Homo sapiens: one gene and its partners. The protein of the gene in region 3 purifies or fractionates together with the protein of the main gene of each other region. This does not show direct contact. Each region holds a gene or a part of one and is shown on either strand. Other genes may lie near its edges.

What was found.
Region 1: the proteins of CEP78 (region 3) and CEP43 purify together in Homo sapiens (affinity purification with mass spectrometry; 3 studies listed by BioGRID and IntAct, with this or other methods). This does not show direct contact.
Region 2: the proteins of CEP78 (region 3) and DYRK2 purify together in Homo sapiens (affinity purification with western blotting; 2 studies listed by BioGRID). This does not show direct contact.
Region 4: the proteins of CEP78 (region 3) and UBR5 purify together in Homo sapiens (affinity purification with western blotting; 3 studies listed by BioGRID, with this or other methods). This does not show direct contact.

The regions. Positions count from the first base shown.
Region 1 is NC_000006.12:167,016,274-167,023,537, forward strand, and holds part of CEP43 (centrosomal protein 43), read left to right. Parts: intron 1-6,135; coding exon 6,136-6,362; intron 6,363-7,264. UniProt on the Homo sapiens protein: Required for anchoring microtubules to the centrosomes. Required for ciliation.
Region 2 is NC_000012.12:67,651,519-67,658,782, forward strand, and holds part of DYRK2 (dual specificity tyrosine-phosphorylation-regulated kinase 2), read left to right. Parts: intron 1-5,587; coding exon 5,588-7,195; 3' UTR 7,196-7,264. UniProt on the Homo sapiens protein: Serine/threonine-protein kinase involved in the regulation of the mitotic cell cycle, cell proliferation, apoptosis, organization of the cytoskeleton and neurite outgrowth. Functions in part via its role in ubiquitin-dependent proteasomal protein degradation.
Region 3 is NC_000009.12:78,231,556-78,239,238, reverse strand, and holds the start of CEP78 (centrosomal protein of 78 kDa), read right to left. Parts: upstream 3,165-7,683; 5' UTR 2,889-3,164; coding exon 2,636-2,888; intron 1-2,635. UniProt on the Homo sapiens protein: Centriole wall protein that localizes to mature centrioles and regulates centriole and cilia biogenesis. Involved in centrosome duplication: required for efficient PLK4 centrosomal localization and PLK4-induced overduplication of centrioles.
Region 4 is NC_000008.11:102,283,688-102,290,951, reverse strand, and holds part of UBR5 (E3 ubiquitin-protein ligase UBR5), read left to right. Parts: intron 1-1,375; coding exon 1,376-1,499; intron 1,500-2,685; coding exon 2,686-2,797; intron 2,798-3,387; coding exon 3,388-3,519; intron 3,520-4,334; coding exon 4,335-4,592; intron 4,593-5,170; coding exon 5,171-5,439; intron 5,440-5,613; coding exon 5,614-5,825; intron 5,826-7,264. UniProt on the Homo sapiens protein: E3 ubiquitin-protein ligase involved in different protein quality control pathways in the cytoplasm and nucleus. Mainly acts as a ubiquitin chain elongator that extends pre-ubiquitinated substrates.

The DNA of each region.
Region 1 (7,264 bases), on a different chromosome or scaffold from region 3:
TTTAGAGACAAGGTCTCACTCTGTCACCTAGGCTGGAGTGCAGTGGTGTGATCATGGCTCACACCACTTGTCCTCCTGGGGTCAAGTGCCCACTTCAGCCTCTTGGGTAGCTAGGACAACAGGTGCATGCCAGCACAGCTGGCTAATTTTTTAAAAAATGTTTTCATGTAGAGGCAGGGGTCTCACTATGGTTGTCCATTCTGATCCTCAACTGTGGGGCTCAAGTGATCCTCCTGCCTCGGCCTCCCAAAGTGCTGGGATTACAGGCATGAGCCACCGTGCCTGGCCCAGTTTTCAGGTATTTTAAAACTAACATGTATTGAGATGCTTTTTCACATTACGTGTAGGTTTTGGGGCATATGTTTTTGTATCTTTGGCAGTCACCTGAGGATTTTCCAAACCAGGCGTTACCATTCCCTGTCACACTCTCACACCATCCTGAATGAATGGATACATGGATGCATGAATGTTCCCACACTTAGCCCTGTAGTAAAATTACTTCTCTAAATAATTCATTAGTAAGTCATGGATCAGAAACTGTCGTTGGCAGGGAGAGAGGTGGGGGGCAGAGGCATGGGTGAAGAGAATTTTAAATACAGTCAGCCTCATATCTGGAGGTTTCATATGCATTGCTTTCACACCTGCAGATTCAGTCGTATGTAAATGGAAAAATGGTTATAAAAAATAATAATACAAATTTTATTTATTATTTATTTATTTTTTTTTTTTTTTATTTTTTTGAGATGGAGTCTCTCTCTGTCGCCCAGGCTGGAGTGCAGTGGCACGATCTCGGCTCACTGCAAGCTCCGCCTCCCGGGTTCACGGGAGGCTCCTGCCTCAGCCTCCTGAGTAGCTGGGATTACAGGCGCCCACCACCAAGCCCGGCTAATTTTTTGTATTTTTAGTAGAGACGGGGTTTCACTGTGTTAGCTAGGATGGTCTTGATCTCCTGACCTCGTGATCCACCTGCCTTGGGCTCCCAAAGTGCTGGGATTACAGGTGTGAGCCACCGCGCCTGGCCAATAATGATACAAATTTTAAAATAATGGTATACAACTGTCTACATAGCATTACATTTATTAGGTATTACAAGTAATCTAGAGATGATTCAAAGCATATGGGAGGATGTGTGTAGGCTATGTGCAAATACTACAGCATTTTATACGAGGGACTTGAGCATCCTCGGACTTTGGTGTCTGCAGGTGTCCTGGGTACTGAGGGACAACTGTATTGCATGAATTTTTTGAATACTTTTGCAAAACAATAGTATTTCTTTGATATTTTTCCTACATGAACAGTTTGGAAAAAAATTCTTTTTTTTTTTTTTCAGGTTCTTAAGTCAGTCTGATACAATTCAGTTTTTGACTACTGAAAAATTAAGGTTTCTCATTGTGAAACTTCTCTAGTGCTGACTTTTTGTTAATCTAGAAATGATTGGCTTCTTTATTATATGAGTGTACTATTGGATAATTTAAATATATACTAAAGCTTTCTTATGGCTGCACTATAATTTCCCATAGAGCTTATTATTAGTCTTGAGCTCCAGCCAAGAGAACTTAATGACCGTTGTAGTGCTGTGCAATAGGTCCCTCACTTTTATGAAAAGACAAAACTTGTTTTAGTTTTTTGTTATAAATGACTTGATTTGTTTCCTAGGGCTAATGTAATATAAGTACCAATATTGGGTGGCTTAAAACAACACATGTGTTGTGTCACAGTTCTAGAGGCTTAAAAATGTGAAATCAAGGTTCGCGGAGGGCTGTGGCTCCTGTTCTAGCTTCTGGTGGCTGCTAGACCCAGATGCTGTTTGGCTTGTAGATGGATTACTCCAGTCTTTGCCTCCATCTTCACATGGACTTCTCCCTGTGTTTCTCTGTGTCTCTTCCCCCCAGCAAGGATACCACTCATTAGGTTAGGACCCAGGCCCACCCTACTCTTTGAATGGACTCATCTTAACTAAATACATCTGCAGTGGACACTGTTTCCAAATAAGGTCACACTCTGAAGTACTGGGAGTTAGGGGTTTCAACATATTTCATTTGTGGGATACAGTTTGACCCATAACTTTTGTGCTTGTCCAGAGAATGAATTCTAAGGCATTGCCATGGTATGTGTGTGTGTGTGTATTTTTTTTTGAGACGGATTCTCGCTCTGTCACCAGGCTGGAGTGCAGTGGCGGCGATTACAGCTCACTGCAACCTCCAACTTCCTGGTTCAAGCGATTCTCCTGCCCCAGCCTCCTGAGTAGCTGGGATTACAGGCACGTGCCACCACACCCAGCTAATTTTTGTATTTTTAGTAGAGACGGGGTTCCACTATGTTGGCCAGGATGGTTTCGGATCTCCTGACCTCATGATCCGCCTGCCTCGGCCTCCCAAAGTGCTGGGATTACAGGTGTGAGCCACTGTGCCTGGCCTTATATTTTTTAAATCTTATTTGTTAGTTTTTAAACAATACTTAACCTTAGTTATTTAGCTTCATTTTGAATCTTCAACTTAGCCAAATCCAGGTGATACAAAACCCAAGTAACTGAAGTTTATGTACGTAACATAAGTTCGTCTTAACTCATGATAAGGGTTTTTAAAGCAGATTCCCGGGTATACATACGTATACAGATGGTCCCCAATGTTACAACAGTTTGATTTATGCTTTTTTGACTTTATGATGGTACAAAAGTGATATAGATTAAGTAGATAGCATACGTTGAGTTTTGATCTTTTCCCAGGACAGTAATCGGTGGTACGATTCTCTCTCGGGGCCAGGCAGTGACGTTGAGCCACGGCTTCCAGTCAGCCACATGGTCACGAGGCACTCTGATGCCAGGGGACTGAATAGCCAGCATTTTTTGGATATTGTGTTTTTGCACCTCATGTTTATGAAGTGCCCGTTTTCCACTTTGTGATATTTTCACTTGACGGTTGATGAGGTGAAGCGCTGTTGTGGGTTGAGCATCTGTGCACATGCATACACCTGCTGTGCACACGCATACACCTGCTGTGCACACACATACACCTGCTGTGCACACGCGTACACCTGCTGTGCACACGGGTACACCTGCTGTGTACATGGAGGAGCCACTGAAACTGCTCTCAGCGTTTTCAGTGCTTTGGTTTTAATCTGCAAAATGTGTTGATGACAAATCTTTCTCCTCTTCCTGTAGATTTTTTTAATAGTGAAGTTTATTTGGAATTAAGTTTAGTGAATTCATTAATAACCTAGTTGGTAATGGTCTTTTGGCAAAAATGAGCCATAGTTATAAAGTAGTAACATGTTACTGTGTGGTTTAGAACTAGATTTTGAGAGCAGTTCCAAAGCAGATTGTTTCAGAATTTATTTTTACTCCCTGGATTAAGAGAACTATATTTTTAAAATAATTCTGTTATGTTTACAAGTATGTGTTGTGTAATATAGTAATGCCCTTCTCCGTAAAACTTGTCTTCCTAAAACTGGTCTTTCTGTCTATAGCGGGAATATTGGTCAAACCTGTCAAATAATCATGGATACCTACTAGTTGCTCAGCTTTGATACTAGATAGTTCATTATGTGGATTTAAGTTACATTGGCAGTGTGAATTCTTGGGGAAATCAGAATAATTATTGTTTCTCATAATATTGCTTTACATTTACATTTTTCAGTTTCTGTCATGCCAGTTATTCTTTGGCACTTTCTCATGAGTGTTTAGAAGGAGAGAATCTGTCGTGGCCACAGGCTGTGTCATTGTACATATGTTTAAATATCACATCAGGGTATTTATTTCCAAATGCATATTCTTTTAAAAAGACATAAATCCATTATTAAAACAGTGTAAAAATCAGAAATTACAACTGCTGTGAATTACATAATATTTTTCTATATTTGATAATACCAGGAAAATGTCAAGAAAGTTGTTAGGAAATTTTTGAAAGTTTCCATCCCTTTGAAAATATGTTGTCTAAAATTATAACTTGCTATTTATTTTTTCAGACATCTCTTTATAATCATTAATTTATATTAATAACATGGAATGTGTAGCTCTCTAGAAGGCAATAAAATTTGCACAGCATATATCTTGCCTACTGTCAACTAGTCAAGACCTCTACCTGGTGTAAAGATGTAAACGTATATCATAAGACATGCATAATGCATTCTGTCTGTACCCATATGAAAAGTGAAACCATCCTTCAGGAGCGTCTTGTTCGGTAATGTCTAACCCAGACTTTGGTCACCATGCTTCAGTAGTTACTACTCTTTAATTCTTTCTCAGCCATCCATCCCTTCCTAGATATAATTTGATCTGAAAAATATGAATCTAGTTCAATTCTTGAGGAAACTCATGCCTAGGAAATTAATTTACTTAAGATTACACGGGCCATGTATGGTGGCTCACGGCTCACGCCTGTAATCCCAGCACTTTGGGAGGCCGAGGCGGGTGGATCACTTGAGGTCAGAAGTTCGAGACCAGCGTGGCCAACATGTTGAAACCCTGTTTCTACTAAAAATACAAAAATTAGCCAAGCGTGGTGGCACGCGCCTGAAATCCCAGCTACTCAGGAGGCTGAGGCAGGAGAATCGCTTGAATCTGGGAGGCGGAGGTTGCAGTTAGCCCAGATTGCCCCACTGCACTCCAGCCTGAGTGACAGAGCGAGACTCTGTCTCAAAAAAAAAAAAAAAAAAAAAAAAGATTATACGACTGGGTGTAGTTTGTGCTTGTAATCCCATAAACCCAGCTACTTGGGAGACTGAGGCAAGGAGGACTGCTTGAGCCCAGGAGTTTTAAGACCAGCCTGGATGACATAGTGAGAGCCTGTTTCTTAAAAAAGAAAAAAAAAAAAAAGAAAAAAAAATGGAGTTAATAATTTTGGACTACATTCCAGATTCCTTGTTTCAGTTGAGTGCTTTTTCTATTATTCCACGGGTATTTTACACAATACTGCTCTCTTTAGTATGCAAGGCTGAATTTTGGGAAATTGCCATTTTTAACCCATAAAGCCCACAAATTCATTATAATTTAGCTTAATAGCATAAATATTGAGTTAACCTCTGGAAGCAGGCTTTGACTTTGATATTGACCTGACCACTTAACTCTCTGGAGACTTTGACAAGTGACATCAATGTCTGTCTCTGTGTTTCCTGATTTATATCCACAGATAGAAAGCCATCTCCAGATCCTAGGGCCATTTTCAAGATTCAGTGAGATAAGGTGAAGCATTTGAATGTTCTCCATAAATGTCAGCTGCTTTTATTATTACTAGCATTATTTTTTGTTTTCATTATTATTATTAACATAGACCCGTCTAAGGGCAGAAAGAAATCTGACCAAGAATGGAGTGAAAGTCGGCTGTGAAGGTTAGGACTCCCTGAAAACAAAAAAGAAAAGTGGTAACATCACTCTGTATCCAAGGGCATGGATAAGGATGATTCAGAATTTTTTTATAACATTGATGTTAATATACATAGAGAAATACACACACACACACACGTATATATGTCCATGGACATCAAAATGAGGTATAGGTTAGGAAGTTACCCTGGAAGTTAGAATTGAGATAATTACTTTGATTAGCAAAGGTTTATGTTAGAAATATGAGTGGTTGAAGGCAGCGCCTTTCACCTTGATGCCTGTTGTGTTTAGCACTGGATAGAAAATTGCTATTTTTACTGATGACTACTTTAATGCTTGGTTCATTCATATGAAATAATCTTTCTTTTCTCCTTTAATAATAATGATCTCTCCTGATTTCAAGTTGAAAATGTATTAATTTAAGATAACTTATGAAGCAATGACATATGGAAGAGGAGATGGGAAATTGTTTCTCAATGGGAAAGTGTTTATAAATGGGATAGGTATACTAAAGGTATTTCCATTTAGGGAAAGAGGAAAGGAATGGTATTAATATATTTCTCTAATATTTTTCCCCCTTTGAAAGTTTGCCATGTTAGGAATCCTGGGGATGGAGTGATGAATTGTGGCATTGCTCTGCAGTTCACGCTGCTGAGAGCTGCCCCAACACACACACACACACACACACACACACACACACACAAAGGTTGCACACACACAGGTTTGATTATGCTCATGAGACTTCTTTTATTATTGAAAATATCTTAAAGTTTTATCTCACCAAGGAGGCCTTTTCTCTTTCCCTCTCTTTCTAGAAGGCCAATGATGAGGCCAATCAGAGTGATACAAGTGTCTCCTTGTCAGAACCCAAGAGCAAAAGCAGCCTTCACTTACTGTCCCATGAAACAAAAATTGGATCTTTTCTAAGCAACAGAACTTTAGATGGCAAAGACAAAGCTGGCCTTTGTCCAGATGAAGATGATATGGAAGGAGATTCTTTCTTTGATGATCCCATTCCTAAGCCAGAGAAAACTTACGGTTTGTGAGTAAATGGTTTTTGAGCTATGAGACTAGGGGTTTAAAAATAAGATAAATGTTTTCATTTTATAGTTAAAAAATAATGAACTATGGAAGGTTTATAATTATTGGATCCATAAATCTGACTATGCGTTGTTAATGCCTTTCATGTTGTAAAACAATCCCAGATTTTAGAAAAACCTAGACATGATTTATTCCAACAAGTAAGTGTAGATTGAGTGTCAGCCACTTGCCAGGGCTGTTCCAGGGTGGGGTGCAGCAATGATAGAAGAGGGAAGACTCCTGCCCTCAGGAAGCTCATGCTCTGGTGACAGAGTCAGGCAATGAGGGTTATGCTGCAGTGTGTGGGGTGATGAGAGCAGAGCAGTGATGGGAGCCCGAGTGTGTGGTCAGGGCAGGTGCATGTCAGCTGTCCAAATTGGAGGGGGCCTCACTTGGAGGTGCCCAGTGAGCAAAGAGCTAGAGGAGGTAAGGGAGTTGCCGTGGGTTGATGGAGCTTTGGGGAGAGGAAACAGACAGCAGGGAGGCGAGTTGGGGGTAGCAGAGAGAGCAAGATGGGGATCGGATGAGGTGGACTCAGAGATGAGGAGCTGGACGGCTTTTCTTTGAGACTGGAAGCCCTGAGGATCTTGATCTGGCGTACATTACAGAAGGATCCTGAGGTTGCTGGGGAAGGTTGGTCTTAGAGTTTCCAGTTAGGAGGCCGTTAATGATGGAAAAGGATTTGCCAGTAAGTGCTAGAGAAAAGTAATATACAGAGTGGCATCATGGTTTTTAGCCTGCAAAACTAGAAGGTTGGAAACACGTTAGATGAAGAGTGGCAAGAGCAAGAGTGGATTACACAGACAGGTGGCATGACAGCCTGGAGGCCCCTGTTGCTGTGCTAAGTTAGAGAAGATTGCTAGT
Region 2 (7,264 bases), on a different chromosome or scaffold from region 3:
AAGGAAGGATGCGAATGTGCTTCTCAGTACTCCTCATAATGGAGGCCTGTATTTTGCTGTGGCATATGCCAGATTTACTTGTTTTTAACGTGTGTGTAAACTTCGGTATGCTGTTAATTATTAGATGCTTGACTTTGAAGGTGTGAATTTGGGTTTCGATGGTGGTTTAGTTTTGATTTTATTTCTATAACATAGCAGATTTCATAGTACAGGAAAGGTTACAAGGACCACAGAGTTTATCTGGTTCTATTCTTTCAATTTATAGATGAGGAAACAGACTCAGACAAGGTAACTGGTTTCATCAAGATTCCCCAGCCAGTTCATATCAAGGCCAGAGTGAAAGCCTACATCCTCCTGCATCTAGTTTTAATATACTGATGGAGACTGCTAATTCTAGGAAATTGTACTAGCCTCATTATAAATGCAAGAACCTTTGTAGATCCATATTCCCATATGTCTGTCAGATTTTTATAAATTTTTAGTTATTATTTCCAGAGTAATTACACCTAGGAAGAACTTCTAGAATGAATGGGGGGCGGGAGGGCATTAAGGAGATAAAAATGATCTTGTCATAGGAGCTTGCCCACATTTTCTCTTACAGGTGATATAGTAGGCAGGTTAAATATATGATTATAAAGATTATAAACTTTGGAATTTATCTAGACCATTGCCCTTTTGTTTTATATCTCCATGTATAAGTTGTTTTACACTTTAGTTATTTCTGTTTGTGTGAGAGAGAGAAGTGTGCCCAATCACTGTCTTACTTCCTATTATTTTTCTATTAATGTTAATTGGTAGTTATTAATAGAAGTATTTTTAAATTCAAAAATATTAAAATATGTATAACTTTTGTAACTGTTTTACTATGTAAAACACTCCAGTTATCAGTTTTACCTTTATAAAATAATTCAAATTGAAATACACATTTTAAAAAATGGCAGTATTTTGAAGAAGAAAAAGTAGACATTTTTCTTTCTGACAGGGCCACACAGACTGTCAGAATGTTTGAGGAGGAGCTAAAATTCCAGTCTTTTTGGACTCAATTCTATTACCATAATACTATACAGCATTTCTAAGATGACTTCAGAAAAGTTTTTAAACGCCCAAGACTATTATCACAGTGGAATATCTGCTGTTTGCCATTTTCTTATTGGAAGAAATGAAAACTACCAAACTGGTTAGACTATTGTTTTTATATAATATTTAATACCAAAGTACTTGATGATCAAAGAAGCCTTTGCAGGTCTCTCAATTCGAACCCATAAATTGTAGCTATTTTAACAATTGTATTATGTTTTTATTTTTTGTTTTGTTTTGTTTTGTTTTTTTGAGACGGAGTCTCACTCTGTTGCCCAGGCTGGAGTGCAGTGGCTCCATCTCGGCTCACTGCAACCTCCGCCTCCGGGGTTCAAGCGATTCTCTTGCCTTAGCCACCCAAGTAGCTGGGATTACAGGCACCCGCCACCATGCCTGGCTAATTTTTGTATTTTTAGTAGAGATGGGGTTTCACCATGTTGGCCAGGTTGGTTATGAACTCCTGACCTCAAATGATCCACCTGCCTCAGCCTCCCAAAGTGCTGGGATTACAGGATTGAGCCCCTGTGCCCGGCCTCAGTATGTATTTTTAAATGTGACACACACTGTGCTATACATTGGCATATCGGAATAAGCCATGATCTCAGACTTCAAGAGGCTGAGCTGGAGGGAGAGGTTTTTAGTATCCTTAAGTTTATGATGTAGTCTTGACATACGTATTCTGGAAATGTTCTGGCATTTCTAGTCCCTCAGCACCCCCACCCTGCTCTCTGCCCCATTTTTTATAAGTCAGTTAATTGTGCTTTTGAGCTTGATTGTGATTTTAGAGTCCTGCAATGTTTGAGATTCAAAGTCTTCTTTTGCTAGAGCTTCTCAAATGAATCTCTAACATCTGGAAAGCTTTTAAGATTGCATGTGTTGCTTTTAGGTGTTTGGTTGATGTGTTTGTTGCAAGTGTTTTATACATGGTTTGATTGATGTGTCTGCTACAGGTACTTTATGCTTGGAGGTCCTTGGCCTCCAAGTCTGTGCGGATCCACTGCAAGCCTAACGTCTTGTGACTTAGGTCACCAGGGACGTTTCTTAATTCCCTGGGCCTTGACTTCATGTTTCCTTATGAAGGTACACAATGTAGTTCTCAGGAACAACTCCAAGAGAGGCAAGAGTTAACAAGGAGGATCTATTGGCATGTGTTCTTCCATCCCAAAGATATTTATTGAGGGCTTACTATATGCCTGGGTTTATGTTAATGAGGACTTGGAAACATAAGAGGGGACCCAGCCCTGGAATTGCTCACAGCCAGATGAGTACATCTGATGTTAAAACAATTGCAATAAAGAGAAATAAGTAAAAGGGTGAATCACCTAGGTATGAGAAAGGAGATTACAAGAAATATCTGGAAAGGACAATAATAATGCTCTCATTGACTGACTACTAAGCACTTTACACATATTACCTTATTTAATCCCCCTAAAAGCCCTAATGAGGTAACTTTGTTACCTTCTTTTTGCAGACAAGGGCACTGAGGTTAACAGAGATGAAATAAGTTGCCCTGGGTCACACATTTAGTAAATGGTGGAGCTGGATCATTTAATGTGTGTCTAACTGAAAATCTACCATTATGAAACCTGACCTCACTAAAAGCAGAGGAGTGTAAAAGTGTGTGGTGTTTTTTGGGTCCTGGGCTATCTAGCTTTGTTCTCTTGGAGAGAAGAGTGACAGTAGTTGATGAGAATGGAAGGACTCCGATCATTTAGCCTCTACATTTTAGAGCCTTGTGTTCTTACTGGTAAGTTCTTGCATTAGCTATGGAAATAGGTTACAGCCACAGGCCTTGGGCAAAAGCAAGAGTGGTCTCAGGTTGAGACTTTTAAATCAGACTCTAGAAGCACTATGGAGAAGAGATTTGAGGAATTCTAGACTTAGAAGCAAGGGGGCATGTTACGATGCTGCCTCAGTTGTCCCAGTGAAAGACATCAGGAGAGTGAGATGAGGCAGTGTTGATGGAAAGGGCCTGGGATAGTAATGATGCATCTTCTTGGTGACTTGGGAAGGTGAGGGAGGTGTTGAGATTTTCCAGGCACACAGTGCTGAGGATTCATTCGCAGGTGGATAGCCTGAGTGACACATGGAGGGGAAGCCTTCTTTTTATCAAAAATGGAGGATTATGGAAGTGGGAAACTGGTTTGTTAGAAAAATCATGAGTTAAGTTTGAGTTGCTTATGGGAGAGGGAGCTGATCGATAGTTGGATATGTGTGTCTTCCACTCAGGAGATAGCACCTTGGAAGGTCTGAGCTCAGGGAACAAATGCGCAAACATCAGGCCATGGGCAGTTGCTGAAGCCCTGGCTGTGTTCAGGATCAGTTGCAGGGGGTTATGGGAGTAAGAAGCCAAGAGAATCGAGATTTGAACCCTGGGGAACTCTTGAATCCACCTAAGGTTAGGTAGTAGTTGATGCTGCAAAGGAGACCAAGAGAAGGCAGTTGGAGATATAGAAGATGGTCGTTTCTTGTCAGTCTCGTTAGTTTTAGTTACTAAAACATTTGTGATCATGTATTAAATTATGCGAAACACAAAAATTGCTTGAAGTAAATTTCTGAGGCTTGGTTTTACTTTGCTGTGTTTTTAGAAATCTCTAAAGCCCCAAGGTTAATTTTGTCCTAATGAAGAGCTTTATGCTTTTTATAGCATGTATACAGGTAATGTGAATTTTTCTGCTGAAATATCACCACTCCACTCTAAAGAAAATGATTCTATAGGAGAGAGATATTTTGATTCAGGCCCCTTTATTGTCTGGTGTTTGAAAGACCACAGTGGACAGGAGAGGGTGCAGAGAGCGAGGCTGGGGAAGAGAAGCATTGGACAAGCCTGTACCTCTTTTATATATGCCCAAGACTTGCCTGATTCATTTTTATGGACTGCCCTGCTTTTGGCATAGAACAAGGGTAAAATAACCTTTCTAGCTACTCTTATTGAATATAAGGTCACCTAGCATGGAGTATCATCTATGAGTGTGATAAAAAAGCTCAGTTATAAGTCTAAGAAATGATATCCCTGAGCCTATGAAGTCACAGTCAGACAGGCCCCAAGTATTGTCTTCTGTTTTGTTTTAGTTAGAAGTGGGCAGAGAGGAAGCTCACACTCCACATAGTCATTGTGCATATTATGTATCCAATAAAGAAAATGTGAACGTCTTGGTCTGCTAGTAAGAAGGAGTTGGAATTTCATTTTGTAATCCAGGTGTTCCCAAATCATGTTTTGAATTACTGTGTTACATATACAGAGCCCTTCTGCTCTTTCAGTAGTATGTAAAGCCCCAAAGGTAGGATTTAAAAGGGGATAGTAGAAAAAATACTGATGGCAGTGGACTTCATCTAGTTAATTGTAAGTTCCTGGAGGGCAGGGACTCTGTCACTTTGGCAGCCAGCCTCCTGTTAATACCAGTTGACTGAATGAGGTGGATTGTGATGACAAGGTGGTGTAAGATTTCATACAGAAATCACCTGCCAGGCTGCTTTAAGACTAGGGGTTGTCCAAGGCAGGAATTCCTAACTGGGAGAGGATCCTGGCTGCCAGTCCTCTCCTACCCCTTACCTCTCAGCAGCCATAATGCTTAAAGGAAATCCCAAGAAGATTCTCAGTAGAGGGCTGGGGTCCCTTGGTTCACACCATTGATAGAATTTAGACAGGAATGTTCAGGGATGGCATGCATACCTGAAACAGAGGTTGCTTCTTTGGATTCCTATTTGGAAATCTGAGTATCCCAGCAGCTTGTAGAAATGGACATCTTCAGAGAGCTGAGCCACTGACCCCTCCGGAGGAAGGCCAAACAGTGTGGTCGTTGCTTGGTTTGTTGGGCTGAATGCCTTAAATGGTTATTACAGTTAGTAAAGCCTGGAAACTTTTAAAAATAGGTCAGGGGTCCATAAGATACTATGGTACACATCTACATGGGAATCTTTCAAGTCTAAAAACACAGGGTTTTTGTTTTTGTCACTGGATCATGTGTGCACTTAGGTTTCATCAGATTTTCAAGGAAAGGGGAAATACTGGTGATGAAGTGTTTTCAGGATAGAGCTCTAGGTATTAGGGAAAGAGTAGTGAACAAGACAGACATGGTCCCTGTCTTCATGTTAATAAACTACTAGATGAAATATGAAAGGTGCTGTGATCTGGGGGTGGAGGAGCCAACATAGAGTCTTATGTGTGCATGTTTTTTTCTGTATCCTGTTTCATTTTTGTATCAAATGTGGATTGAGTGGAACACCTATGATGTGCCAGGCCCTATACTAAGTGTTAGATATAGAATGATAAAGTTAAGGTCTCTGTCTCCGTGGGGAACCCTGAATATGTACAGCAAACCATCTTGTCTGTTAGGCATGGCATTTATGAGGTCCATTTTTCAGGATCACATGTTTTGTGGCTTTTACTCAAACCAAATGGGATTTTGTAAATGTGAGGTTGGGGGCGGTGGTGTTGTTGGGGGTTACTTATACACCATTTGAACAGACACCACTTCTTTTCTATTTATATTTCCTGTCTGAATTCCAGATTGGCGGCAGTAAGCACACAATGAATGATCACCTGCATGTCGGCAGCCACGCTCACGGACAGATCCAGGTTCAACAGTTGTTTGAGGATAACAGTAACAAGCGGACAGTGCTCACGACACAACCAAATGGGCTTACAACAGTGGGCAAAACGGGCTTGCCAGTGGTGCCAGAGCGGCAGCTGGACAGCATTCATAGACGGCAGGGGAGCTCCACCTCTCTAAAGTCCATGGAAGGCATGGGGAAGGTGAAAGCCACCCCCATGACACCTGAACAAGCAATGAAGCAATACATGCAAAAACTCACAGCCTTCGAACACCATGAGATTTTCAGCTACCCTGAAATATATTTCTTGGGTCTAAATGCTAAGAAGCGCCAGGGCATGACAGGTGGGCCCAACAATGGTGGCTATGATGATGACCAGGGATCATATGTGCAGGTGCCCCACGATCACGTGGCTTACAGGTATGAGGTCCTCAAGGTCATTGGGAAGGGGAGCTTTGGGCAGGTGGTCAAGGCCTACGATCACAAAGTCCACCAGCACGTGGCCCTAAAGATGGTGCGGAATGAGAAGCGCTTCCACCGGCAAGCAGCGGAGGAGATCCGAATCCTGGAACACCTGCGGAAGCAGGACAAGGATAACACAATGAATGTCATCCATATGCTGGAGAATTTCACCTTCCGCAACCACATCTGCATGACGTTTGAGCTGCTGAGCATGAACCTCTATGAGCTCATCAAGAAGAATAAATTCCAGGGCTTCAGTCTGCCTTTGGTTCGCAAGTTTGCCCACTCGATTCTGCAGTGCTTGGATGCTTTGCACAAAAACAGAATAATTCACTGTGACCTTAAGCCCGAGAACATTTTGTTAAAGCAGCAGGGTAGAAGCGGTATTAAAGTAATTGATTTTGGCTCCAGTTGTTACGAGCATCAGCGTGTCTACACGTACATCCAGTCGCGTTTTTACCGGGCTCCAGAAGTGATCCTTGGGGCCAGGTATGGCATGCCCATTGATATGTGGAGCCTGGGCTGCATTTTAGCAGAGCTCCTGACGGGTTACCCCCTCTTGCCTGGGGAAGATGAAGGGGACCAGCTGGCCTGTATGATTGAACTGTTGGGCATGCCCTCACAGAAACTGCTGGATGCATCCAAACGAGCCAAAAATTTTGTGAGCTCCAAGGGTTATCCCCGTTACTGCACTGTCACGACTCTCTCAGATGGCTCTGTGGTCCTAAACGGAGGCCGTTCCCGGAGGGGGAAACTGAGGGGCCCACCGGAGAGCAGAGAGTGGGGGAACGCGCTGAAGGGGTGTGATGATCCCCTTTTCCTTGACTTCTTAAAACAGTGTTTAGAGTGGGATCCTGCAGTGCGCATGACCCCAGGCCAGGCTTTGCGGCACCCCTGGCTGAGGAGGCGGTTGCCAAAGCCTCCCACCGGGGAGAAAACGTCAGTGAAAAGGATAACTGAGAGCACCGGTGCTATCACATCTATATCCAAGTTACCTCCACCTTCTAGCTCAGCTTCCAAACTGAGGACTAATTTGGCGCAGATGACAGATGCCAATGGGAATATTCAGCAGAGGACAGTGTTGCCAAAACTTGTTAGCTGAGCTCACGTCCCCTGATGCTGGTAACCTGAAAGATACGACATTGCTGAGCCTTACTGGGTTGAAAAGGAG
Region 3 (7,683 bases):
GGCAAAATGTAATTAAGGATGGACAAGCAATATGTAGGAGGTTAAAATCTACAACCTAGACCCACTAGATGCAAGAGATAAAGAAGGTTCAGTGAAGAATATCTGACGAGAATGGTCTGTAATACATTTTTCTTACATTCAGTGCAAAATATTAGGCAAGATCTAGTAGGCTAGCCTTGACTCTGAGGTCCCTCCCATCTTTAATTTATTTTGGTTCCTGGTTTTTTTATTTTTTGTAGGGGGAGGGTCATGGACAGGGTCTTGCTCTGTCACCCAGGCTGGAGTACAGTGGCAAAATCATGGCTCACTGCAGCCTCAACCTCCCGGGCTCAAGAGATCCACCAAGCCCAGCTAATATTTTTTACTTTTTGTAGAGACAGGAGTCTCACTATGTTGCCCAGGCCAGTCACAAACTCCTGGCCTCCCAAAGTGTTAGGATTACCAGTGTGAGCCACCGCACCTGGCCTGGTTCCTGATATTATTTTGGTTAACTAAAGTCCATTCAGAGGTACAGAACAGTTCCTGCACCTGAATGAGATGTAGAGAATAATCTGACTTATTTTCAGAAGCAGATGTGTTGAACTGTCCTTGCAGAAGAGATGGTGCTAACCCCAGAGCCTAGAAAAGGGCCGGGCACACGACAAGTGGTCAGGTTGTTTTTAAATACATCAATAATCATTTCCTCTCCCAGATCGCACACCCTCCCTCTTTCTCTCAGCTTATAAACATGTTCACGTCCATATCCACTTAAAAAACACCTTTCAGACCTACAATTATCTGGATCTTCTTTGTGGGTAATCTAGGTCCCTCCCATGCCTTCAAATACCTGTCCTCCCACAAAGCCTAAATCTTGGGCCCAGATCTGCCTAGCAGACACATTTGGATGCCCCACAGGCCCCTCTTAAAACATTAAAGACAAACTGAGATCCTCCTCCCACCCCCAATCTCATTCGAGTTAACTCGGCTGTGTCATGGAAAGACGCTGCTGTGTTTCACTTACAGACGCTGCTGTAAACTGTCACCCATACTTGCTGCCCCCCTCTTCTAACTAGTCACCACGCCCATCCATTCTCTTAGATATCTGAAATCCTACCCTTCTTTTTTTTTTTTTTTGAGACAGAGTTTTGCTCTTGTTGCCCAGGCTGGAGTGCAACGGTGCAATCTCAGCTCACTGCGACCTCCACCTTCTGGGTTCAAGCAACTCTCGTGCCTCAGCCTCCCAAGTAGCTGGGATTACAGGTGCCCGCCACCACGCCCGGCTAATTTTTTTTTTTTTTTTTTTTGTATTTTTAGTACAGATGGGGTTTCACCATGTTGGTGAGCCTGGTCTCGAACTCCTGACCTCAGGTGATCCACACCCCCCCGCCTTGGCCTCCCAAAGTGCTGGGATTACAGGCATAAGCCACGGTGCCCGGCCCCAGCCCTTCTTTTCTATACCTTAGTTTGGGCCATTAGATTACAATTCACCATCCTTCCAATTTTAATTTGTCTTCCATATGGAGGCTAGACTGAGCTCCTACGGAAATTCCATCTCATCATCCTACAGCGGTTTCCCAAAACCTTCAGGATAAACATCCAACTCTATGACAGGACAAACGAGGACCCTCCCTGTTTGGCCCCCACAAGGTTTCCAGCCTCAACTCTCTCTGCTCTTTCTCAAACCTAAATTCCAGTCCTGTAACTCAGCTTGCATACTCTCTCCTATTTCCAAAACTTTTGCACAAACTGTTCCTTCCTGTTACCTAGCTAGCGTCTATAGGAAGCTGCCTCCATTATGTAGAAAATGCTAAGTGCTCAAAGGAATAACAGCATTTTGTCATATATCATAGTTGACCTAACATATTTTCCGAATAATCAGAGAGTCTGGATCCCTAATTATACCACTATACATTTACAAATGGCTTGTATTTGTAAAGCACTTTACAAACTTCTTATATACACCTTAAAAAATGAAGACAGGCCGGGCGCGGTGGCTCATGCCTGTAATCCCAGCACTTTGGAAGGCCGAAGCGGGCGGATCACCTGAGGTCAGGAGTTCGAGACCAGCCTGGCTAACATGGTGAAACCCCATCTCTACTAAAAATACAAAAATTAGCCGGGCATGGTGGCGCGCGCCTGTAATCCCAGCTACTCGGGAGGTTGAGGCAGGAGAATCACTTGAACCCGGGAGGCGGAGGTTGCAGTGAGCCGAGATCTTGCCACTGCATTCCAGCCTGGGCGACAGAGTGAAACAGTGTCTCAAAAAAAAAAAAAAAAAAAAAAAAAAAAAGACAAAGGCTGACATGTATTAATTTCCTACCTGCTTAGTTCTCTATCAGGCAAATCAAAGTCATTCAATAAAATAGGTAACATCTGTCAAATGTTTAATGATGTCCCAAACTGTGCTAAGAGCTCTGCAGGCATCAGCAGCGCAGGGAATCCTTGCGAAGGCGCACATAACCTGGGTCTCGTTATTAAGCCCATGTTACGGATGAGCACACTGAAGCCCTAGAGACCTTAAGCCACTCACCTAGCTCGTGAGTGTCCAGGCCGCACACCCCTTCTATTGCACACATACCCCGACAATGGACACCACTCACCTAAAAACCCACTTCGCCGCACCGACTGAGGGGCCCTGGAGGCGGGAACTACAAACCTGTGTCCCCCAGCCAGGGCTGGAAGAAGCTCTTGATGGAGACCAAGGGCAGGTCTTTATTGATCTTGAGGGTGCTCAGCAGAGGCGCCCAGTCCACCCCGCGGAGGCGGTCGGCGTTGAAATCCAGCACGCCCTCCCGGAGACAGGCGCGCACGGCGGGCAGCGGCACCGAGTTCTGCAGCGCGCACAGGTACTCGTAGTGGGAGAAGAAGTCCGCCGCGCTGTCGCGGCGCAGCTTCACGGAGTCGATCATGGCCCGAGGGCGGCCTCGGGGGATGCCCGCCGCGGAGACGCCGCCCGCGCCCACCCAAGAACGCTGAGTCGCAACCCGGCCGCTCCGGCACCCACGGCCAGGCGATAGCGGCAGCCCCGCACCGGGCTCAGGAGCGGTGATTCGGTCGGAAGACGCAAGGCCAGAGCCCCAAGCTAGGCCGGCCCCTCAACGCCCCACTCCCGCGCTGCCTCCCGCCCTGCGGCCCAAGCAGTTGGCGCCCGCCTCATAGTCCTCTGAGGCGCCGGGATTCAAGCCGGTGGGCGGTGCCGTGGAACGGTGCGCCAAGACGTCAACGTGCTCGCTGTGCGTCGGCACGCAGGTCCCGCCTCCTGAGGACGGGTGAGTTCGCTGCTACCTGAGATAGTGGTCGGGAGAGTTTGAGGGTTTGCGAAAGAGTTTACTGATCGATCCGAATAAAAGTGAAATGTGTGGTCGGGCGCGGTGGCCCACGCCTGTAATCCCAGCACTGTGTGAGGCGGGGGCGAGCGGATCACCTGGGGTCAGGAGTTCGAGACCAGCCTGGCCAACATGGCGAAACCCCGTCTCAATTAAAAATACAAACATTAGCCGGGCATGGTGGCGGGCGCCTGTAATCCCAGCTACTCGCCTGTAATCCCAGCTGAGGAAGGAAAATCGCTAGAACCCGGGAGGCGGAGGCTGCAGTGAGCCGAGATCTTGCCATTGCACTCCAGCCTGGGCGACAAGAGCGAAACTCCGTCTCAAAAAAAGAAAGAAAATAAAAAGTGAAATGTGGATGTAACAACGCACTTTTAAAAAAAGTCTAAACATCTGAGGAATGTGTCTGTGCTTGCAGTGTCCAGCCAGCACAGAGACTGCACTCAAGGGATGTGGGAACGGCTGATTGAACGTGAACTGCGGTCATTAAATCTTTTATGTCTGTGTTAATATCTACAAATAAGCCTTAATTTCTGTAGTTTCTGCATATCTCACACGGTTCCTGGCAAATTGAAGAGTGTTTCATGAATTCAGGACTTTATTGTGTTTGCTGTGAATCAGTTTGTTTTGTACTGACGATGATGTTGGCTAACTCCCTTGTAACTAGTACTTATTTGAAATAATGTCCTCGGGATTATTTTAAGCAATGTTTAAGTATGAAATCATTTCATTCTCCTAACATCTCAAGGAATATACTATTATATTCTACTTTACAAAAGGGGAAACTGAGGAACGGGGAAGTTAAGTGGAAGCTAAGTGGAAGAATCCAGATAATTGACCTCTCCTTCTATTGGTATGCAATTGCTAGAGCAATGATAGTCCTCCGGTAGAGCCTTAGACATTGTGTTTATTGCATTCCTGTTCCACCCACTGCATTCCGGATACTCCAACTTACTTCCAACACACATATGCAGGCGTCTCTAAAATTCCGGAGATATGGTCACCAATTATTTTTATGTGCGACATGCTCAAATCTTAATATAGTAAACGCTTGTATATTCATAAACCAGCTTAATAAATGAAACATTACCATTCCTGTTGAAGAGCTTTGTGTAACCACCTTCCCAATCACGACTACTCTCTGACTCTGAGATAACTGCTCTTCTGAACTTGGTATTCATCGTTGCAATGTATGTCTTTATATTTCTGCTACATATGTAAGTAAGCAGTATATAACATTCTATATTTTCTTTTCCTACTTTACTTATCGTTACCTTTACTAGGTCCATCCGTGTTGACATATAGAGATATTCATTTATTTTCCCTGTTGTTATATGGGAGTTCCATGTAGAAACATACAGTAATGTGTCTGTTTTTCTGTTGATGGTAATTTAAATTGTTTCCAACTTTACGATTTCTTTGTTGCTCTATCCATTTTCTTTCTAGTCTCCAGCATCAATTAATGTAGTGTCCATTACCTTTTTAAAGCTCCCTCCTCCCTGTTTCCCATGAAGCCACCTGATTTCTTTTTCTTTACCTCTCGAATTTCTTCTTCTCAGTCTCATTCTTTGGCTTCTCTTGCATATCCACTCTAAATATTGCTGTTCGTCAGGTTTCTACCCTCAGCTTTCACCCCTTCTGACATTTTACAGTTTCTCTGGGTGTTCTTGTCTTCTGCTCAGCCTTAACTTCCCCACTCTAGGCAGATTACTTCTAACACAGATAGATCTCTTCATCCATTAAATTGCCCCCTAGAAAGCCAAGATTTCTCACTGCCCTCAGTGTCAGATCTATGTCACGTAGCTTGACATACAAGCTCCTTCATAATTTGACTATCTCTGTTGTCTCTCTCCTTGCTACATTCTTCCTGGCATGTCTTCTCTAGATACACAGAACTGCTTGAACTTTCTGATGTCCTATTGTTGCTGTCTGGGTCTTTTCATAGGCTGCTCCTTTATTTAGTCGGCTAACTTCCATTCTTTTCCCAGCCTTGGTTTGGGGCACCTTCCCTAGAAAGCCTGTTTCTCTCTAACCCTCATCTCTCCTCCCTTGCTTGTTTAGCACCTCACTGCTGTGCTCCCTGACATCCCTGTAGCATAACACTTAGAACATCCAATGATAAACATCTTTTTAGATGGTTTTCCTTCCAGAGTCTGAAAGCCCTTTGAAGGCAAGAACCATGTCTCATTCATGCTTACATTCCCTATGCCTAGCACAGTGTTAGCACAGAGAAAGTGCTAACTAATGACTAATTGTAGGAACATTCTTCCCTATTATCCCCGCAAGCTATTGCCAGCACCCTGTAGCCACTGCCTATGAATGCAGCTCAGAGAAGTCTTCCTCATATTAATAATCATTTAACATATTCATTTAAAATTTATGTTTCCTGTGCTTACTTATTTTTAGTGTGGCAAGATTTCTTTCAAGGCTTGCCTGATAATCTCTTCTCTGCTTCAGTTAAATTATGACTTAATAGTTGCTTCAAAAAAAGAATGGCTCCAGTTCTCCTTTCAGCATCTGGTGGGTTCACCCACACACTTCCCTGAACACTGAATGAAAACTGTCTCTCTGTGGCACCTCTGGGATCCTCTGACAAACCAGGCTCACACCTGGCCCAAGACAAAATGCCTTGGCTTCATTGCAGGTGCATGACTTGGGAGGGACGTTCTACTGGGTGGTATAAGAGATGAGCTCTCCTCCTTCAGGGGATCTGGTGAGTGAGTGTTTGAGTAGAATACAGGTAAATGGTATCATTTAAGCACTTGTTCACTGTACTCTACTCCCAGTCAATCCAGACTGTTATACCCCGACTTCCTAGCCCACTTACCTTTCCATAGAACCACAATGCCATATCATCTGCTTATCTCTAACATTCATCCTCTCTGTACTTGCTTCCAGAGCAGTGAGGTTTGATGGATCCAGGCACAGAGCAATGTCAACCTGGCCAACAACATAAGCTGTCTTATGTTAACGGATGTGTGGTCCCCATTTCTTTTTCCCATTACCTTCCTTGTGGCTACTCACAGTGGTTGTTCCAATTCCTTCTCCTTCTTTCTTTTCATGTTGCTGCTTGATATGGTTTGGCTGTGTCCCCACACTTTACCTAGAATTGTAATAATCCCCACATGTCAAGGGCAGAGCCAGGTGGAAATAATTGAATCATGGGGGTGGTTCCCCCCATACTGTTCTTGTGAAAGTGAATAAGTCTCACGAGACCTGATGGTTTTATAAATCGGAGTTCCCCTGCTCAAGCTCTCTTGCCTGCCGCATGTAAGACGTGCCTTTGCTTCTCCTTTGCCGTCTGCCATGATTGTGAGGCCTCCCCAGCCATGTGGAACTGTGAGTCCATTAAACCTCTTTCCTTTATAAATTATCTAGTCTCAAGTATGTCTTTATTAGCAGCATGAGAACAGACTAATACACCATAACACTTCATTCTACATCCCTGAACAGGACACCTCTTACTTCATCAGGGAAAACAGTTCCAAATGTAAACTTTCTTGTCTTCTTTCTTCTGACTTCAGCTGCCTTCCAATCCATGCTCCACACTGCAGCCGCCACCACCTCCTCTGCAAATCCTTCTATGACTTCCCTTTGCTCTCGGGATAAAGACAAACTTCACAATGGTCTCAAATAGTGCTCCACTCAATGTGGAGTCCACAGACTAGCTATTGATTTTAGAACTGTTACTGTTCTTATAAGATGAGGAGCTCAATTCAGAATGTAAATCACACATGCACTAAACATACTGCTTAGATTTTTTTCATGAAAAGAGCAGTGTATTGCGTTACATTCTAGAACAAGCTCCTTATCTCATTGTCCAGTGGCACTTTGAGTAGCACTAGTCTCCAGGGTGCTGCATCCTCAGGGCATGATGGAGTATGATCTCTGCAGCTTTGTCTTGTGTCCTAGTCTCTTTCATTCTCAGCAGTCCAGCCTATAGTAGTCTCCTTTCAGGCCTGCACACTTAGAATAAACCACTGTCCATGCTGTCCGCTCTGCATGAGATGTCCTTCCCTTCATTCTGCACCTAATTAGTGCCTCCGCATCTTCTCATCTCAGCTCATGTGTCACTTTGTTGAGGAAGCATTTCCTCCCTCCCTGACTCATCACATCCCCTATCATAAGCTCTCATAATACCACGTAACTCTTGTTGATAGCCTTCATTCTATTTCGCATTCATTTTGAAATAAATGTTTACCATATGGTCCTTGAGGAAGGGATCGTGTCTGTTTTGCTTATTCTGTTGTTTTTGTTTTGTTTTTATTTTTTCCGAGACGGAGTCTTGCTCTGTCACCCAGGCTGGAGTGCAGTGGGGTGATCTCGGCTCACTGCAACCTCTGCCTCCCGGGTTCAAGCAATTCTCCTGTCTCAGCCT
Region 4 (7,264 bases), on a different chromosome or scaffold from region 3:
TCAACTGATAAATATATATAATGCAGATACTCCAAAATTTAAAAAAAAAAAAAAAAACCCAAGATCAAAACACTTCTGGTCCCAAGCATTTCAGGTAAGGGATGTTCAACTGTAATACGTTTTATGTATTGGTATTTTTAAATTACTCTTTTTAAATTTTTTGTAGCGTTTGGGTCTCGCTGTGTTGCCCAGGTCGGTCTTAAATTCCTGTCCTCAAGCAATCCTCCCACCTCAGCCTCCCAAAACATTGGGATTACAGGCATTAGCCACTATACCTAGTCTGTTTTGGCAGTATTATACATACTAACTGCATAACTTCTTAAAGTAACCACTTTGAGGGGCCTATAGTTCTTGTGGATGTTTGTTCTAGGATGTTTGTTTTAAAAAAGAAATACTCATTAGTTGTGGCTTCACACAGTGCTTTTATGTTTTAATATTGAAATCTCTTTAGTGGTTGGAAATACCCTTTTTCATCTCTACAGATTTTCTCTTAGCCTTTCCCACTTTTGTAATCCACGATCTCTGTTTTACCAGTTACTTATAGTTCTAGTGTTAAACATCATATTGAGACTACTTATCTGTTTGTTTGAAGGCATGGTGTTTCAGTCAACTCTCAGGTCTAATTGGTTTGATTCTCATTTCTCATAGCAACTGAGATAGGAAAGAACCTGTCAGTGCAATCACTTAAAGGTCTTTTGACTTCAACATCTTTTACCCCGTTTCATAATCTATAAATAATAGGTGACAGGGTTATTTAGCCACCAGTTTCAGATTTCTGGCCTGTATTTTAAGCTGTATTTTCTGGTTCCCCCTTTTTGTTTTATAATCCAGTCAACTGTCTTTTCTTGGTTGTCTCCAAATCAGGTGTTTAGGGAAGTGAAACTTTTGCCACTTTGCCTTTGGTTATGACTACTTTAAAATCATGCTTTTGAACTGATGTTTTCCCCACACACATCAGCAAGTCATTAGTTAATAAGCTCATTCAAAATAGAAATCATGTCAGATCTCTTAAAAGTTAGATCACTTCTATTAAACACTTGCTGTTAATGGACAGATGGTGCTACCAGAGTTTTTAGAAATAGAACTGCTGGTGGAGGAGGAAAAATCTTCCTGTAGAATTTTTCGATGGGATGGACTCATACAAATAATGTGCATCAACACAGATTTGAAATGACTTAAAAAGAAAAAACATATTCTGAGATTTATATTTTCTGATATATAGATTAAGTATTGTTGGTTTCTAAGAATTCTCAGCTCAGATTTAAAGTCACATCCTAGCAAGTGTCTCACATGTAATAAATGAGTTAAATAAAAATATGTGTTGCATATCTGAGCTGTGGCAGGAGCCCACTCATAAGCTTCTGATTCTTTACAGCTCCAGTCAGTCTCAGTCATCCTACATCATCAGGAATCCACAGCAGAGGCGCATCAGCCAGTCACAGCCCGTTCGGGGCAGAGATGAAGAACAGGATGATATTGTTTCAGCAGATGTGGAAGAGGTGATTTTAATTGTGGTAGATTTAAAAAGCTTTTATTTTATGAGAAAAGAAGAGTAGTCAGTAGAAATTACATTAATAGTAGCTTGAGACTACTATATGCGTTTGCATCCAGTTTGTAGATGTTTATTATATATTCTCATTTGTGGTTATACATAGTAAAATTATTTTAATAATTTGTGACTTACTGGATATTAGGAAATTGGACACAAACTTGTCTTTAAGGATTAAGGGTGGAGATATTCTCAGTGTTAACAGCAAAGATATTCTGGGTTTTTTTTTTTTTTTTTGGAGACAGAGTCTCGCTCTGTCACCCAAGCTGGAGTGCAGTGGCGTGATCTCGGCTCACTGCAACCTCTGCCTCCCGGGTTCAAGCGATTCTCCTGCCACAGCCTCCTGAGTAGCTGGGATTACAGGCGCGCACCACCACACCCATCTAATTTTTGTATTTTTTAGTAGAGACGGGGTTTCACTATGTTGGTCAGGCTGGTCTCGAACTCCTGACCTCGTGATCCACCTGCCTCAACCTCCCTAAGTGCTGGGATTACAGGTGTGAGCCACCGCGCCCAGCCAAGATATTCGTAATGTTAGAAAAATTTAGTAGTTTTGTACAATGTATTTGAAAGAGGATACTACATATTTATGAGGTAAATTCTCTCCTCCCTGCCCCTAGTATAATTTTTATACTTCTAACTTGAGGGTTCTGTATATGCTCAGTAATGAACTTTGGGATCTGTGGGTATAATTTTTTTATTTTTTTGAGATGGAGTCTTGCTCTGTTGCCAGGCTGGAATGCAGTGGTGCAATCTTGCCTCACTACAACCCCCACCTCCCGGGTTCAAGCAATTCTCCTGCCTCCGCCTCCTGAGTAGCTGAGACTACAGGCACGCACCATGCCCAGCTAATTTTTGTATTTTTAGTAGAGTCGGGGTCTCACCATGTTGGCCAGGATGGTCTTGATCTCTTGACCTTGTGATCCGCCCATCTCCGTCTCGGCCTCCCAGAGTGTTGGAATTACAGGTGTGAGCCACCGTGCCCGGCCAGGATATAATTTTTGATAGCAAATTGTCACTAACAAATGAAGATTTTCAAAACTGCTTGATATATGATTTCAAATTCTCTATAGTTAGTGGTCTTCGCATTTTAGTTAACTAGCTTTGATTGTCTACAAATAAGATTCTGGATTTAGGTTGAGGTGGTGGAGGGTGTGGCTGGAGAAGAGGATCATCATGATGAACAGGAAGAACACGGGGAAGAAAATGCTGAGGCAGAGGGACAACATGATGAGCATGATGAAGACGGTATGCAGGTTATTTGAGAAATTACTCAGTATGAGTAAATCAGGTACTTTTAAAGGGAGATATTAAATACAGAGAGAAACCTCATTTGAATGTATAGTGAAATGGTCAAACTTATTTTTTGCCAAGGGTTTCTGTAGCATCTATTTAGAAAATTTAGGCGCTATATATAATACATATATAAAATAGTTTCCCTTTTTTCTTTTTAAGTCAGTTTCTTAAAAGACTTTTAAAAACTAAAATAATCATAGTCGCATTATGAAACATTTGGAAATTAGAGAAAAGGAAAATAAATCACCCATAATTACACCCAGATGCTAATAGCTTGTATATTTACTTTCAGTCCTCCCCTGCACTGCCCTGATGTACTAGTCTGTTGACTACCATAATTTCCCTAGCCATTCTTCTAAGGTTGAGTAGTTACTTAGTCTTATTTTAGTAGTTATCCCTTCTCTTTCACACCATTCCCCTTCTCCCCAACTCCTACCCCCTATGCCTTCTTAGTTCCCACCCTTACGATATTCTGGCTTATCAGACCCTGTTTTAAACCATAGTGAGTTTGTGCTTTTTTCTTATTTAAATGTATTTTTTAGGGAGTGATATGGAGCTGGACTTGTTAGCAGCAGCTGAAACAGAAAGTGATAGTGAAAGTAACCACAGCAACCAAGATAATGCTAGTGGGCGCAGAAGCGTTGTCACTGCAGCAACTGCTGGTTCAGAAGCAGGTATGTTGCCTTATCCCAACTACTTTCTTGCTTATGCTAAGGCTGTGTGTGTGTATTCAGCGTGGATTGGGTCATACTTTGTGTGATATACGCAAGGGTAGCTAAGCATTTTTATAACTTCATCCTTGTTCTCTGGGTATTAGAAAAGAAAGTATTATTTTAATAACTCTTTCTCCAGCTTTTCTGGTCATTAAATAATGAATGAATTTTAAAGTTTCTTTAAAAGATTTTTATTTTCTTGCCTTTTTTTTTTTTTTTTTTTTTTTTAAATTGGGTCTCATTCTGTCACCAGGCTGGATATTCCAGTGGTGCAGTCAGAGCTCTTTGCAGCCTTGACCTCCTGAGCTCCTACCTCAGCCCCCTGAGTAGCTGGGTCTACTAGGTGCAAGCCACCACATCGGGCTAATTTTTTTTTTTAAAGAGTTGGGATCTTACTGTGTTGCCCAGGCTGGTCTTGAGCTCCTGAGCTCAAGCAGTCCTCCCACCTCAGCCTCCTCAGTTGTTGGGATTATAGGCATGTGCCACCACACCCAGCTAAAAGTTACTTATTCAGGAGGCTGAGGCATACAAATAGCTTGAACCCAGGAGGCAGAGGCTGCAGTGAGCCGACATGGTGCCACTGCAGTCCTGCCTGAGCCACAGAGCTGGGCTTGAAAGTTATTTTCTAATAAAAACTATTTTATGGTAGGTTTTGTGGATTATTGAATACAATCTGGCATTCTGTTTAATATGTATGTTTTCCTGAATGAGGGGGTACATTGTAATTTTAATTATTAAACTCACAATGTTTTTGGTTTTAAAAATAAAAATTTTAGGAGCAAGCAGTGTTCCTGCCTTCTTTTCTGAAGATGATTCTCAATCGAATGACTCAAGTGATTCTGATAGCAGTAGTAGTCAGAGTGACGACATAGAACAGGAGACCTTTATGCTTGATGAGCCATTAGAAAGAACCACAAATAGCTCCCATGCCAATGGTGCTGCCCAAGCTCCCCGTTCAATGCAGTGGGCTGTCCGCAACACCCAGCATCAGCGAGCAGCCAGTACAGCCCCTTCCAGTACATCTACACCAGCAGGCAAGTCTGAAAACTTAGTATTGCTAAGAATACTTAGATAGATTTTTTAAATTATGCATGTTCATCTGGGGATAAAATTAGTTTTATGATAGTTCCTCATTGTTTTGTTGAGTTTCAAATATAAAAAATATGTACATATGATTATAGCAGGGTTTCCCAGTCTTTGCATTATTGCATCTTTGGACTGGGTAATTGTGGGAGGCTGTCTTGTGCATTGTGGGATGTTAGGCAGCATCCCTAGCCTACACCCACTAGATGCCAGTGAAACCCCTCTCACCCTTCTTCCCCTCCCCTTGGCTCCCACAGTTGTGATAACCAAGAATGTCTGTAGATACTGCCAAATGTGTAGCCCCTTTGGCGGGGGGAGGTGGCGTGGGGGTCAGATTTCCCCTGGTTGAGAACTTTATATTAATTCTTGTCCCCTCCATACTCCTCTCCCCAAAATAGTGTGGTTTAGGCAAAGTTTTTTGCTTGGGTACCACAATTGACCATTTAGATTTACGTAAGTATATATAATCCCAGAGAAACACAATTAGCAACTGACATTAGCTCATTGTGGTTGTCCTTTTTCCTTATAGCAAGTTCAGCGGGTTTGATTTATATTGATCCTTCAAACTTACGCCGGAGTGGTACCATCAGTACAAGTGCTGCAGCTGCAGCAGCTGCTTTGGAAGCTAGCAACGCCAGCAGTTACCTAACATCTGCAAGCAGTTTAGCCAGGGCTTACAGCATTGTCATTAGACAAATCTCGGACTTGATGGGCCTTATTCCTAAGTATAATCACCTAGTATACTCTCAGATTCCAGCAGCTGTGAAATTGACTTACCAAGATGCAGTAAACTTACAGGTATGAAACCACTGAAAAGTTTCCCATTCCACTATTTTTTTTTGGCTGTCAATTATGAGAATTCCAGTATTAGGGGAATTAAATGTTAGAAACGTTTACATATTGACATACTGCTGCTGTATCGAATTTAGCTCTATTTGGATAGTTTTAACTATTTTAGTTTGGTCTTCATAGAACTATGTAGAAGAAAAGCTTATTCCCACTTGGAACTGGATGGTCAGTATTATGGATTCTACTGAAGCTCAATTACGTTATGGTTCTGCATTAGCATCTGCTGGTGATCCTGGACATCCAAATCATCCTCTTCACGCTTCTCAGAATTCAGCGAGAAGAGAGAGGATGACTGCGCGAGAAGAAGCTAGCTTACGAACACTTGAAGGCAGACGGTATGAAATTCTTCATATATACAGAACGTCCCCAACTTAAAATGGATCCTCAACTTACAATTTTTTGTTTGTTTGTTTGTTTGTTTTTTTGAGACGGAGTCTCACACTCTTACCCAGGCTGGAGTGCAGTGGTGCCGTCTCGGCTCACTGCAAGCTCCGCCTCCTGGGTTCATGCCATTCTCCTGCCCCAGCCTCCCGAGTAGCTGGGACTACAGGCACTTGCCACCCACGCCCGGCTAATTTTTTGTTTTCTTAGTAGAGACGGGGTTTCACTGTGTTAGCCATGGTGGTCTTGATCTCCTGACCTTGTGATCTGCCCACCCTGGCCTCCCAAAGTGCTGGGATTACAGGCGTGAGCCACAGCGCCCGACCCCCAACTTACATTTTTTTTTTGACTTTGTGATGGGTTTATTGGGGGTATTAAATGCGTTTAGACTTTATGCGTTTATGATGAGTTTATCAGGACATAACCACATCTTCAGTCAAGGAGTATCTATACTTGCATGTTTAGATAGAATCTTTGTATCCTAGAAGGTTAAAGCTTTTTAGTTGCTATTATGTAAGACCTCATCTTACTGTGAAGGGAGAAAGAAATGACTTGCTTGCATTACTTAAATTGTTGAGGCAGAATAGGCTAGTTATCATCCAAGCTGTTTTTAAAAATCCATTCATATCGTAGGAATCTGATACTAAAGCCTTTTTATTTTTGAAGTTATTGGTCTATATCTTTGTCTCATTATCCCCAAGACCTCCCCCTCTCCTCTTAGGAAGTTATTTTGACTATAATTGGTTATGAATGTACTTTGTACTCAGGAGGGGGAAAGTATGTGTGATTACCAGTGCTGCTCTTTTTTTCTCAAATCACATTTCTTTTTTTCTGCCTCCCCTAGTCTGTTGAATTAAAATAAAATATATATCTATGTATTTGTTATGTTCTTTCTATTCAGTTATAAAGTGACCTTTTTCAGGAGTAGGTATCAGCTCAAATATTGAACATCAGAGCAATAGCAGTAATATAGTAAAAGTGCCTCATACCTGAAGTCAAAATCCAAGGATTTGGTTCTGTCTCTACCTCAGGATAAACAACTTTGTTACTCTGGGCAGATCATAAAGTGAGGAAAGACAAAGGTCTAAGAGATTACTTAGAAAGACAGTGATAGGCATCTACAGTAGAGGTAATAGTTACTAAAGTAGGGCAGTGAAGACCAAAAGGAGGGGAGAGAAGCATTGAAATAAAAAACAGAATTTAGGGCCTTGTTGAGGGATTAAGTAGCAGGGGCATCATTTATATTTAAACCTTGATCCTGAGTAACTAATAGGAAAATTAAAGAGAAAAACCTAAGAGTAGTATAATGGACAAACTTGCTTTTGAACATGTGAGAACTGGGGGAAAAAAAATGGTAGAAATGTCAAATGTGCAGAATTGAATGCTTGGCAAA